Linked DNA regions of Homo sapiens: region 2 is linked to region 1. The links come from fine-mapping of genetic effects on gene expression. Tissue or cell type: whole blood. Region 1 holds a variant in brackets; the other region holds the start of a gene. All regions are shown on one strand. Distances are between the middles of the regions.

The links. PIP is the estimated chance that this variant, and not a neighbour inherited with it, causes the effect.
Region 2: it holds the start of GTF3C6, and the variant in region 1 is the best candidate, but not a certain one, in a credible set for the expression of GTF3C6 in whole blood (INTERVAL, PIP 0.76).

The regions. Positions count from the first base shown.
Region 1 is chr6:110,924,887-110,930,267 of GRCh38, reverse strand. No RefSeq gene overlaps it. Among named protein-coding and RNA genes, the nearest start is that of GTF3C6, 31 kb to the left of the region's middle. The variant G/T (reference allele first, on the strand shown) is at 2,484.
Region 2 is chr6:110,956,334-110,961,697 of GRCh38, reverse strand. GTF3C6 (general transcription factor IIIC subunit 6) reads right to left here and starts at 2,992. Exons shown (of 6, transcript NM_138408.4): 1 at 2,872-2,992; 2 at 2,446-2,526; 3 at 1,221-1,284; 4 at 1,082-1,126. The coding sequence starts at 2,928. RefSeq lists an enhancer at 2,670-3,119.

The DNA.
Region 1 (5,381 bases):
GATGGGCAGCAGAAATTTCATAGAGTACTTAGTTATGTCAGCATTAACTTTCTGTCATAGATGTTACATCCTGGATTAGTCATGAAACAGGAAGTTTAAGAAATGTCTAAAATGACAAGTTGTAATATAAAAGTAACAAATGCCTCTCTCACTTTTTTTGTTTTTGTTTTTCTTTTTTTTTTTTTTTTGAGACAGAGTCTCACTCTGTTGCTCATGCTGGAGTGCAGTGGTGAGATCTCAGCTCACTGCAACCTCCACCTCCTGGGTTCAAGCGATTCTCCTTCTTCAGCCTCCCAAGTAGTTGGGATTACAGGCACTCGTCACCATGCCCAGCTAATTTTTGTAATTTTAGTGGAGGCAGTGTTTCACCATGTTGGCCAGGCTGGTCTCAAACTCCTGGCCTCAAGCAATCCTCCCAGCTCAGCCTTCCAAAGTGCCAAAATTACAGGCATGAGCCATCACGTCTGGCCTATAGGTACCTTTCTTATTAAAGAAATGAATGAAAGAAAAAAAGCCTTATGACCTTAAGCAAGTTCCTTAACAGACCTCAGCTGCCCATTTATAAAATGAGAAAATTGGATTGGATAATACTAAGGTCCTTTCCACACATCATAATGTTTTTTCAGAAACAAAAAGGTCTCATGTGACAGGAACTGACCAAAACAAGCTACAGACCAGGCGTGGTGGGTCACGCCTGTAATCCCAGCACTTTGGGAGACGAAGGTGCCTTTGCAGATAGTGGATACTCAATCAAACCCCATCTCTACTAAATACAAAAAATTAGCTGGGCTTGGTGGCGCATGCCTGTAATCCCAGCTACTCAGGAGGTTGAGGCAGGAGAATTGCTTGAACGCAGGAGGCGGAGGTTGCAGTGAGCCGAGATTGCGCCATTGCACTCCAGCCTGGGCAACAGGAGTGAAACTCCGTCTCAAACAACAACTACAACAACAACAACAACTAGCTACAATGAAAATAATGATAAGGATGGGTAGAATAAAATATAGCATAATTCATTCAGTAATGCAAAGCACAGGCACTCAGTTATTCACCTGCTGTCTCCACAATTATCACATTTGTCAGAATTTGCCGTTAAAGGGATTTGTTGTGTTCTAGACTACACAACACTGTGGCAGTCAGGAAACCTTTATGCTACTCTTGGGGTTCCAGATCTCTGAGCTTCCTTCATTCTGCAAGTTACTAGTCAGCTATTTACATGTTGTATTCTTTACTATATTATAATCTCTAGGAGGGCAGGGATCACATCCTATGCATGTCTATACCCCATTCTACCTTGTCTAATACTTTGCAGATAGTGGGTACTCAATAAATGTCATTTGATGATCTCTTTGTCTAGTAAATAAATGTGAAACGTGGTTTTTAAATGGCATTTCACATTAAATAATATAACACTTATATAATGTCCATCACCTAAAATATTTGCTTTTCCTCATGCTCATTAAATATTTGATCTTTCTTCAGGGGTCAGATGAGGTTCATCCTTCTCTATGAAGTACTAATTGGTTGTTACAGCACTTAATTATGGCGTTTTCTTATTTATTGTACCATTCAGGTGGCTAAGTATTTTGGGTGGGGTCTCTATCACCACACTAGATTTTTATTTATTTACTTATTATTTATTTATCAGAGACAGTGTCTCCCTATGTTGCCCAGGCTGGACTAGAACTCCTGGGCTCAAGCGATCCTCCCACCTCAGCACGTTAGATTTTTAGTTCAGCACAGGAAGAAGCATGTAATTTCTCCTTTATCCTGTAAGCATGGTGCCTTCATAACAAAGTTGCTAAATAAATATTTGATGATGATCCTGATGATCAATAATAAGTGATTTACTGTTAAAGGTTTACTAGTTGCTTATATCAACCCCCCAAAATACTTCAGATACAAATTTTCTAAAAGGAACGCACTTTGGGAGTGACAGCTTTGCTCTCACCTAGGTACAGGCTCCCGCAGCCTGTCTCAGACCATACCCAGGCGCAGCCTTTTCTGTATTTTATTGTCTTCATTTTCCTGGAAGCCAGGGGATTTGGAGGATGATCAAATGGAAAGAAGGAATGAAGGGAAGGAGGGAGGGAAGGAGGAAATGAAAATATATTTGTGTACATTGTGAATATAATGTACAAGATGTAACAAAAGAATAGACAGGCAGATTTTGAAGACATTATAATCTACTGGAATAATCTGGATACACACAATTGAAAATATATCAAAGTATATAAATAGTGAAACCCCATCTCTACTACAAATACAAAAATTAGCTGGGCATGGTGGTGGGCACCTGTAGTCCTAGCTACTCAGGAGGCTGAGGCAGGAGAATAGCTTGGAGGCAGGAGAATAACTTGAAGTCGGGAGGCAGAGGTTGTGGTGAGCTGAGATCATGCCATTGCACTCTAGCCTGGGCAACAATAGCGAAACGCCATCTCAAAAAAAAAAAAAAAAGAAAGAAAGAAAGAAAAAAGAAAAAAACT[G/T]GTTGAGTAAGTAGGAGGAGGGGCTAAATTGATAAGGAGATTTAGGGCTCAGTGTAAATAATTTACAGTTTCTATGAGGAGCTGCTAAAAGCAATTCAAGGTTTATGAAAAAGGGCTTCATATTCAAACAGTGTTTGAGGAAGATTATTCTTGCCATAGTAATGACATTTATTGAACATTTCTTATATGTCTTATATGTAAGTGCTTTACATATTAGCCCATTTAATCTTACAACTACCCCATGAGGAAGACACTGTCATCTCTGTTGTGCAGGCAAGGAAACTGAGGCACAGATCCTGGGTAACTTGCTTCCTCAAGGCCCCATTGCTTCTAAATAGCAGACCTGGAATATGAACTCAGGCTGTCTGAGTCTAAACCTGGTGTCTCTTCTAACCATCTCGTGACATGGCTTCTCTTTCCATAGAGCTATGTATCTATGTGGGAGACAGATAGGAGATTCATCAGGAGGTAGCAGTGGTCTAAGGCATGTAGTGATTAGACTGAGTGGGACTGTGATCACAGAAAAAGCAAGGAAGGGATGAAGCTGAGAAAATTCACATGAGAGAATTAGACTTGCTAGGTATATTTGGAAATGGAGGTAAGGGATAGGGAGATAAGGATATTATTTCATTCCAAAAAGATTTATTATTTTTTTTTATGACAGGGTCTTGCTCTGTCACCTAGGCTGGAGTTCAGTGGCGTGATCACAGCTCACTGCAGCCTCGAACTCCTGGACTCAAGCAATCCTCCTTCCTCAGCCTCCCAAGTAGCTGGGAAGACAGGTGCCCACCACATCTGGCTATTATTTTTATTTTTTGCAGAGATGGGATCTATGTTGCCCAGGCTGGCCTCCAACTCCTGGACTCGAGCAATCCGCCCACCTCAGCCTCCCAAACTGCTGGAATTACAGGCGAGAGCCACTGCTCCCAGCCCCCCAAAAGATTAATGAATATTTACTATGTGCCAGGAACTGTGTTAGGTACTGTATTCGGTTAAGAAACAGTGAACCAGATAGACAGAGTCCCTGCATTTATGGAGCAAGATTGTGTTATTAGTGGAAAACAGGCTCTATATGCATAGAAAACACAACAAACTGGAAACACTGGTTGTTTAGGAGAACTAGATGGAAGCAGAAACGTAGAAGAGAAACCTGTTGAACTTTACAGTTCTATTAGAATTTGTCTAAAGGTTTTCCCCTCCTAGGCACGGAGGGAACAAAGGAAACATTGAATTTTAACACATGAATATGTTAACTATTTTAAAAATAGGGCTTTTTAAATATAATCAGATCTCATGATGTAAAAAATGTGTAGTTTTTTGTTTGTTTTTTGAGACAGTCTCACTCTGTTACCCAGGCTGGAGTGCAATGGCGTGATCTTGGCTCACTGCAACCTCTGCCTCCCAGGTTCAAGGGATTCTCATGCCTCAGCCTCCCGAGTAGCTGGGATTACAGGCATGCACCACCACACTCAGCTAATTTTGATATTTTTAGTAGAAACGGGATTTCTTCATGTTGGCCAGGCTGGTCTTTAACTCCTGGGCTCAGGTGATTTGCCCCCACCAGCCTCCCAAAGTGCTGGGATTACAAGCATGAGCCACCATGCCTGGCCTATAGTTTTTTGTTTTTTAAAAAAACTGAGATACTGCCAGGTGAGGTGGCTCACGCCTGTAATCCCAGAACTTTGGGAGGCCGAGGCAGGTGGATCATGAGGTCAGGAGTTTGAGACCAGCCTGACCAACATGGAGAAACCTCATCTCTACTAAAAATACAAAAATTAGCTGGGCGTGGTGGTGTGTGCCTATAATCCCAGCTACTCTGGAGGCTGAGGCAGGAGAATCGCTGGAACCCAGGAGGCAGAGGTTACAGTGAGCTGATACTGCGCTATTGCACTCCAGCCTGGGCAACAAGAGTGAAACTCCGTCTCAAAAAAAAAAAAACCAACCGAGATACTAAGACTACGTGCTGTGTACACACACACACACACACACACACACACGCCTGTATACGCGCAGACTTTCTGACAATTCATACAAGAAACTGGCAAAACTGGACCCCTTGGGGAAGGGAATTGGGTGGAAATAGAGGTGAGAGACTTTACCCTTTTGTACCATTTGTGTTTTTATGAATTCAATTATTGAATATACTTTGTACAAGTATTTACTTAATAAAAGCAAATGAGTTTTAAAAATAGCAATCAGAAACCTAGGAATTAATAGAGGTTTTATGGAGAAAGAATCCCACAAGTTTGAAATATTTTACATACCAGCGTGCTTTTCTTTAAGTTTTAACTTTTACCAAAATTAGCAAAGAAAAAGTATATGTGTGTGCATGCGCAGTAGAAGGAAACCAATTAAAACTTTGGTGTTTGTGGAAATAAGAGAATTAAAATATTTTGGCATTTGGTGAATGTGGGAAAAACTCCTCGGCTATCAAAATTCTCTAAATAAGTTTTCAAAAAATGCCTAAGGCAGTTTCACTTCTTACAATAGACACTCTATTGAAACAGGTTCAGGTGGTGGCCAACCTCCACCCATAGGTTGCAGGGTTTTTGTGATTTCTTGTAGAACTAACTAATCCTGACATGACAGTTTGTACTGTGTTTTAAATCGGAATTGATCCCCTCGGTTCCAAACAAAATTTGGATGATGAAACCTATTATTCTTTTGCAGAGTGAGGGCCAATTTGGTTGAACCACGATTAGAAAATTTAGTTGTATTTCTGGAGATATTTTAACTTTCAGGATTTTTTTTTTGAGACAGAGTCTCTGTTGCCTAGGCTGGAGTGCAGTGGCGCAGTCTCAGCTCACTGCAACCTCTGTCACCCGGGTTCAAGCGATTCTCCTGCCTCAGCCTCCCGAGTAGCTGGGATTACAGGCACCTGCCACCATGCTGGGCTAA
Region 2 (5,364 bases), 31 kb before region 1:
GAAGCCAAAGTATGGAGTAGGGACATTCTCAATCATGAAAGCCTGAGGAAAAAAATTGCTGCCAACCTGCTGCCTGGAGTTGAAACTTTCAGAAAACTGTATGCCTAGGCAGGACGGAGGATAAGGCCCTTGAGCCAAGGATATGAAGCACAGACACTTCCATACATTGCTACTGTGAGTATAAATTGATACCATACTTTAGAAAGTAGGCTGCTCTGCCTATGAAGTAGCCCTTCTTTTATTCCTTGGCCAGGAGTGGTGGCTCACACCTGTAATCCCAGCACTTTGAGAGGCCGAGGCAGGCAGATCACTTGAGGTCAGGAGTTTGAGATCAGCCTGGCCAACATGGCGAAACCCTGTCTCTACCAAAAATAGAAAAATTACCTAGGCGTGGTGGCAGGCGCCTGTAATCCCAGCTACTCGGGAGGCTGAGGCAGGAGAACTGCTTGAACCTGGGAGGTGGAGGTTGCAGTGAGCCAAGATTGCACCACTGCACTCCAGCCTGGGTGACAGAGTGAGACTCTGTCTCAAAAAAAAAAAGAATTCAGGAGAGTGATCATCTCTGAAGACAGAGGGAAAGAAGTAAGTTTGGAAAGGGGGATAGAAGGACTTCAAATGTATCTGGAATGGGTTCTTTTGTTTGTTTTTGAGACACAGTTTATCTAGCTCTGTTGCCCAGGCTGAAGTGCACTGGTGCGATCTCGGCTCACTGCAACCTCCACCTCCCAGGTTCAAGCAATTCTCGTGCCTCAGTCTCCCGAGTAGCTGGGAGGCACATGCCACCATACCCAGCTAATTTTTGTATTTTTAGTATAAATGAGGTTTTGCCATGTTGGCCAGGCTGGTCTCGAACTCCTGGCCTCAAGTAACCTGCCTGCCTTGGCCTCCCAAAGTGCTGGGATTACAGGATTGAGCCACCTGGCCCAGCCTGGCATTTTTTTTTTTTAACTATAATCTGAGTCACGTTTGGGAAAATGATAGGATATGATACAGCTAGACAGTGGATACATGAGATATTTATTATGCTTAAGTATGATTGAAATAGTTCGTATTAAAAAGGGCTGGGCTAGCAATCACTTACCATGTTCAACATTTTCTTCAAATATAACACAGGTCCCTAGAGTGTCTGCAGAAAAATACAAAGGCAAATTGTTGAGAAGAGCTACCATCTCTGAAAAGCCCATATCAGAAAGAGTTCCATCTATCTGACATCCTCCTACCTTCATACTCCCCAGCAAAGACACAGCTGTCCACTTGCAGAATGGGCCTCTCAGTGTCAATGCCCTACAACAGAATAAAGGATCATAAAAAAAAAACATAATTAGAAAAAGGCTTCAACATTGTAACCTTGCTACCAAGGAAACTAATCTCCAAAACTGGGGAACCTCTAGAGCATCTTGTCCTACCAAGTACAGGATAAACTACAACTGCTCTGATCACAGCAGTTACAACCTGAAGACTACTTAATTCATACTCAAGTAACAAGGTTTATTTCAATCAACATCCTGTTCAAGAGTAAGCTAAAAACAGAGGAAGTTTTGTCAACAGTAGTGCAAAGAGTCTATCTGTCATCTATTTATTTTTTGAGACAGTGTCTAGCTCTGTCACCCAGGCTGGAATGCAGTGGCATGATCATGTTCAGGCAATCCTCCCACCTCAGCCTCCTGAGCAGCAGGGACCACAGGCGCATGCCACCATCCCCAGCTAATTTATTATTATTATTATTTTTTTTTTTTATTGAGATGGAGTTTTGCCCTTTGTTGCCCAGGCTGGAGTACAGTGGCGCGATCTCGGCTCACTGCAACCTCTGCCTCCAGGGATCACGCGATTCTCCTGTCTCGGCCTCCCGAGTAGCTGGGATTACAGGCGCCCACCACCATGCCTGGCTAATTTTTGTATTTCAGTAGAGACGGGGTTACACCATGTTGGCCAGGCTGGTCTCGAACTCCTGGGCTCGTGATCTACCCGCCTCGGCCTCCCAGTATTGGGATTACAGGCGTGAGCCACCGCGCCTGGCCATTTTTTTTTATTATTATTTTAGAGAAGGGGTCTCGTTATGTTGCCTAGGATGGTCTCCAATTCCTGGGCTCAAGTGATCCTCCCACCTCTGCCTCCCAAAGTGCTGAGAATACAGGAATATATGTACGGTTCCATATCACAATGTTACTTCCTCCAAATCTGTAACTTTCTCTTCAGCCACACATTCAAACAGGCAAGCAAAGTTAGCCATTTTCTCCTATCTGCTCCCATAGTCCCCGCTGTACTTCTACATTATACTTAATTACATATTAATTAATTATACTTAGTATACTTCTTATCCTTAGAGTTCACTACTTTGTAAGGTGAAATAAATATATCAATACTTGCGGATAGGTATTTCACCATTGATTCTTGTTTTACATTTAAGACACTCTAGAACAATCCCCCCAAGTCTAGAAAACTCACCAAAACCTTGCATTTATTTTCACATTTTGAGAGGAAGTCTGAATCAATAATTCCTGATAATTCCACCAGAACCAACTGCTCCTGGTGAAAGAAAGAGGGGTTAACATGCTAGCACGCGAGCGGCCAAGAGGGAGCAATTAGCAAAAGAAGCCAAATTTCCCACATTTGTGAAAACCGGACCCTGTTTTCAGCAAGAGGAAACTACGCTACCTAAGGTAACTTCCCGGTACTTCCCATCCCAAGTACGGGGTGACGATTAGGGCTAAGGTCCCAAGCTGCCCGGCTCCTCGCGCCCAGGAGCAAGAAGCCGGTGAGGAGCAGTGGGGCCTCCCTCCGGCCCGCAGCTCCCCAACTCCCTTCCCCACACACAGCCAGCACAGGCATCACCGCCACTGCGGTGCAGGCTTTTGGCGTAGCGCTTACTACCTCCTCTTCCTCGTCTTCTCCGTCCTCTGGACTCCGCTCGTCCGCCGCCGCCGCCATGGTCCCGCGGCGCCTCGCCTTCTAGTCACTGGCCACGCCCGCCCGGAGCCGCCATCTTGAGTACGGGCTTCAGCTCCGAGGCGAAGCAGCTTATTGGGTTCCTGCCGCTCCGCTCCTCGCCGCGCAAATTGCTTCTGCCAGAACTCGAGATGTCGGCTTCCGGCGGGCGGGTGGCTACGGGCGCCGAGAGCGCCGGTACCCACGTGGAGACTCGCCACGGGCCTCCTCGTTTCTCGGTGCCTCAGAGCAGGGGCTGGGGGTGGGCTGCCGTAGGCAGCGGAGCCCGCTCGGTCACGCAAGAGTCGCCGGGCTCTCGGCCCCGCTGGCGGGGAGGACTGGCAAGGCAGAAGGGATAAAGGCGAAAACAAGGAAACCATGGTTTCAGGCGGATCATGGACAGAAAGGCCTTGTGTTTGACCCGAGCACATTTCTTGGAAAGAAATTCTTAATATTGTGTGAGCGCTCATCCTCAATTCAACGTACCCCAAGCCAAGTTAAAGGCACATTCAGTTTAATACTAATGAGCGCCTACACAGTAAAAAGCACTGCACCAGGAGCTATGAAAAATAGAAAGTGGGCTTAAGTTTCAGGCCTGCAGGAGCATAAGATCTGTGAGAGGTACATAAATGGATCCAAGCAAGTGCTGTAAGAGATACACATTGTTATAGGAACACAGAGACCTGGGCAAGAGAAGTTTGAACAGAATTTTCAGAAGTATCCCATAGATGTTTGTGATTGTGAAAGAAACGGTCTTCGTACTTGCGATAGCGTGATCTAGTGGTTAAGATCGTGAGTTTTGGATTTTTATTTATTTATTTATTTGGAGATGGAGTTTTGCTCTTGTTACCCAGGCTGGAGTGCAATGGTGCAATCTCGGCTCACTGCAGCCTCCACCTCCCGGGTTCAAGCGATTCTCCTGCCTCAGCCTCCCGAGTAGCTGGGATTATAGGCATGCGCCACCACGCCCGGCGAATTCTGTTATTTTTAGTAGAGACGGGGTTTCTCCATGTTGGTCAGGCTGGTCTCGAACTCCCGACCTCAGGCGATCCCCCTGCCTGGGCCTCCCAAAATGCTGGGATTACAGGTGTGAGCCACCGTCCCCAGCCTGAGCTTTGGATTTTAATACCAGTCAAGTTCTGCTGCATTATTAACAGCAAGGCTTTGGGCAGATTGGTGGTTGTGAGGATTAAATGAGACAATACATATAAAATAAATTTAGCCCAGTATTCAGCACATAGTAAGCATTTAAAGTGCATTTAATCTATTATTAGTAGTAATATATAAATTTTTTAGTATGATGCTCTTTCTCTCTTTCTTTTATTCATTGTTTGTTTCTTTCTTTCTCTCTTTCTTTCCTTTCTTTTTTGTGACAGGGTCTGGCTCTGTCGCCCAGCCTGGAGTGCAGTGGCGCCATCGTAGCTCCCTGTACCCTCAAACTCCTGGGCTCAAAGGGAGCCTCCTACCTCTGCTTCCTGAGTAACTGGGACTACAGGTGCACGCCACAGCGCCTGTCTTTACATAATGGTTGTATGAGTGTGCCATAACTTGATCCTCTATTTTTTAACACATAGGTTATTTACAATTTGTGGATATTGTAAATAACACTCTTTTGTGTATATTTTTGTCCAGTTGCCTAATTAAATGTATAGGATTTCATAGCTTAAAAAAGTAGAAGGAACACTGGACCTGTTAGAAGTACATTTCAATTCTAGCTCTGAAGCTTAATAATTGTGAAGTTTTCCAACCTCAGTTTTCTTATTTATTATATGAGGATGAAAATAATTATACTTAACACCGGGTGCGGTGTCTCAAGCCTGTAATCCCAGCACTTTAGGATGCTGAGGCGGGCGGATCACAAGGTCAGGAGATTGAGACCATTCTGGCTAACACGATGAAACCCTGTCCCTACTAAAAACACAAAAAAATTAGCTGGGCATGGTGGTGTGCACCTGTAGTCCCAGCTACTCCGGAGGCTGAGGCAGGAGAATGGCGTGAACCCGGGAGGCGGAGCTTGCAGTGAGCCAAGATTGTGCCACTGCACTCCAGCCTGGCCGACAGAGCAAGACTCCGTCTCAAAAAATAATAATAATACTTACTGTGTCTTTTTTGCTTGGAAAGCAAAAATTCAATCGTATATCTAAAAATACTTGGTAAACTGAAAAATTACATAAATTGTCAGATTTTGAGGGAGATGTGGGGAGAGTAAGGAGGAGTGGATAATCCAAGCTGAGGGAACAGCAGAAACAAAGGCTTGAGGAATGAAAATATGTGTGTTTTGAAAGGTTAGTGTGTTATAACTCAAGATGTCCCTTTAAAATAAACAAGCCTCATACTTCTAGCAAAAGTTATTGTTTGGTATTTATGAAGTAATTATTTTTATTTACTTTTAATGATTTACAAAAGAATACACAGTTAAAAGGGAGCTTTTTTTTTTCC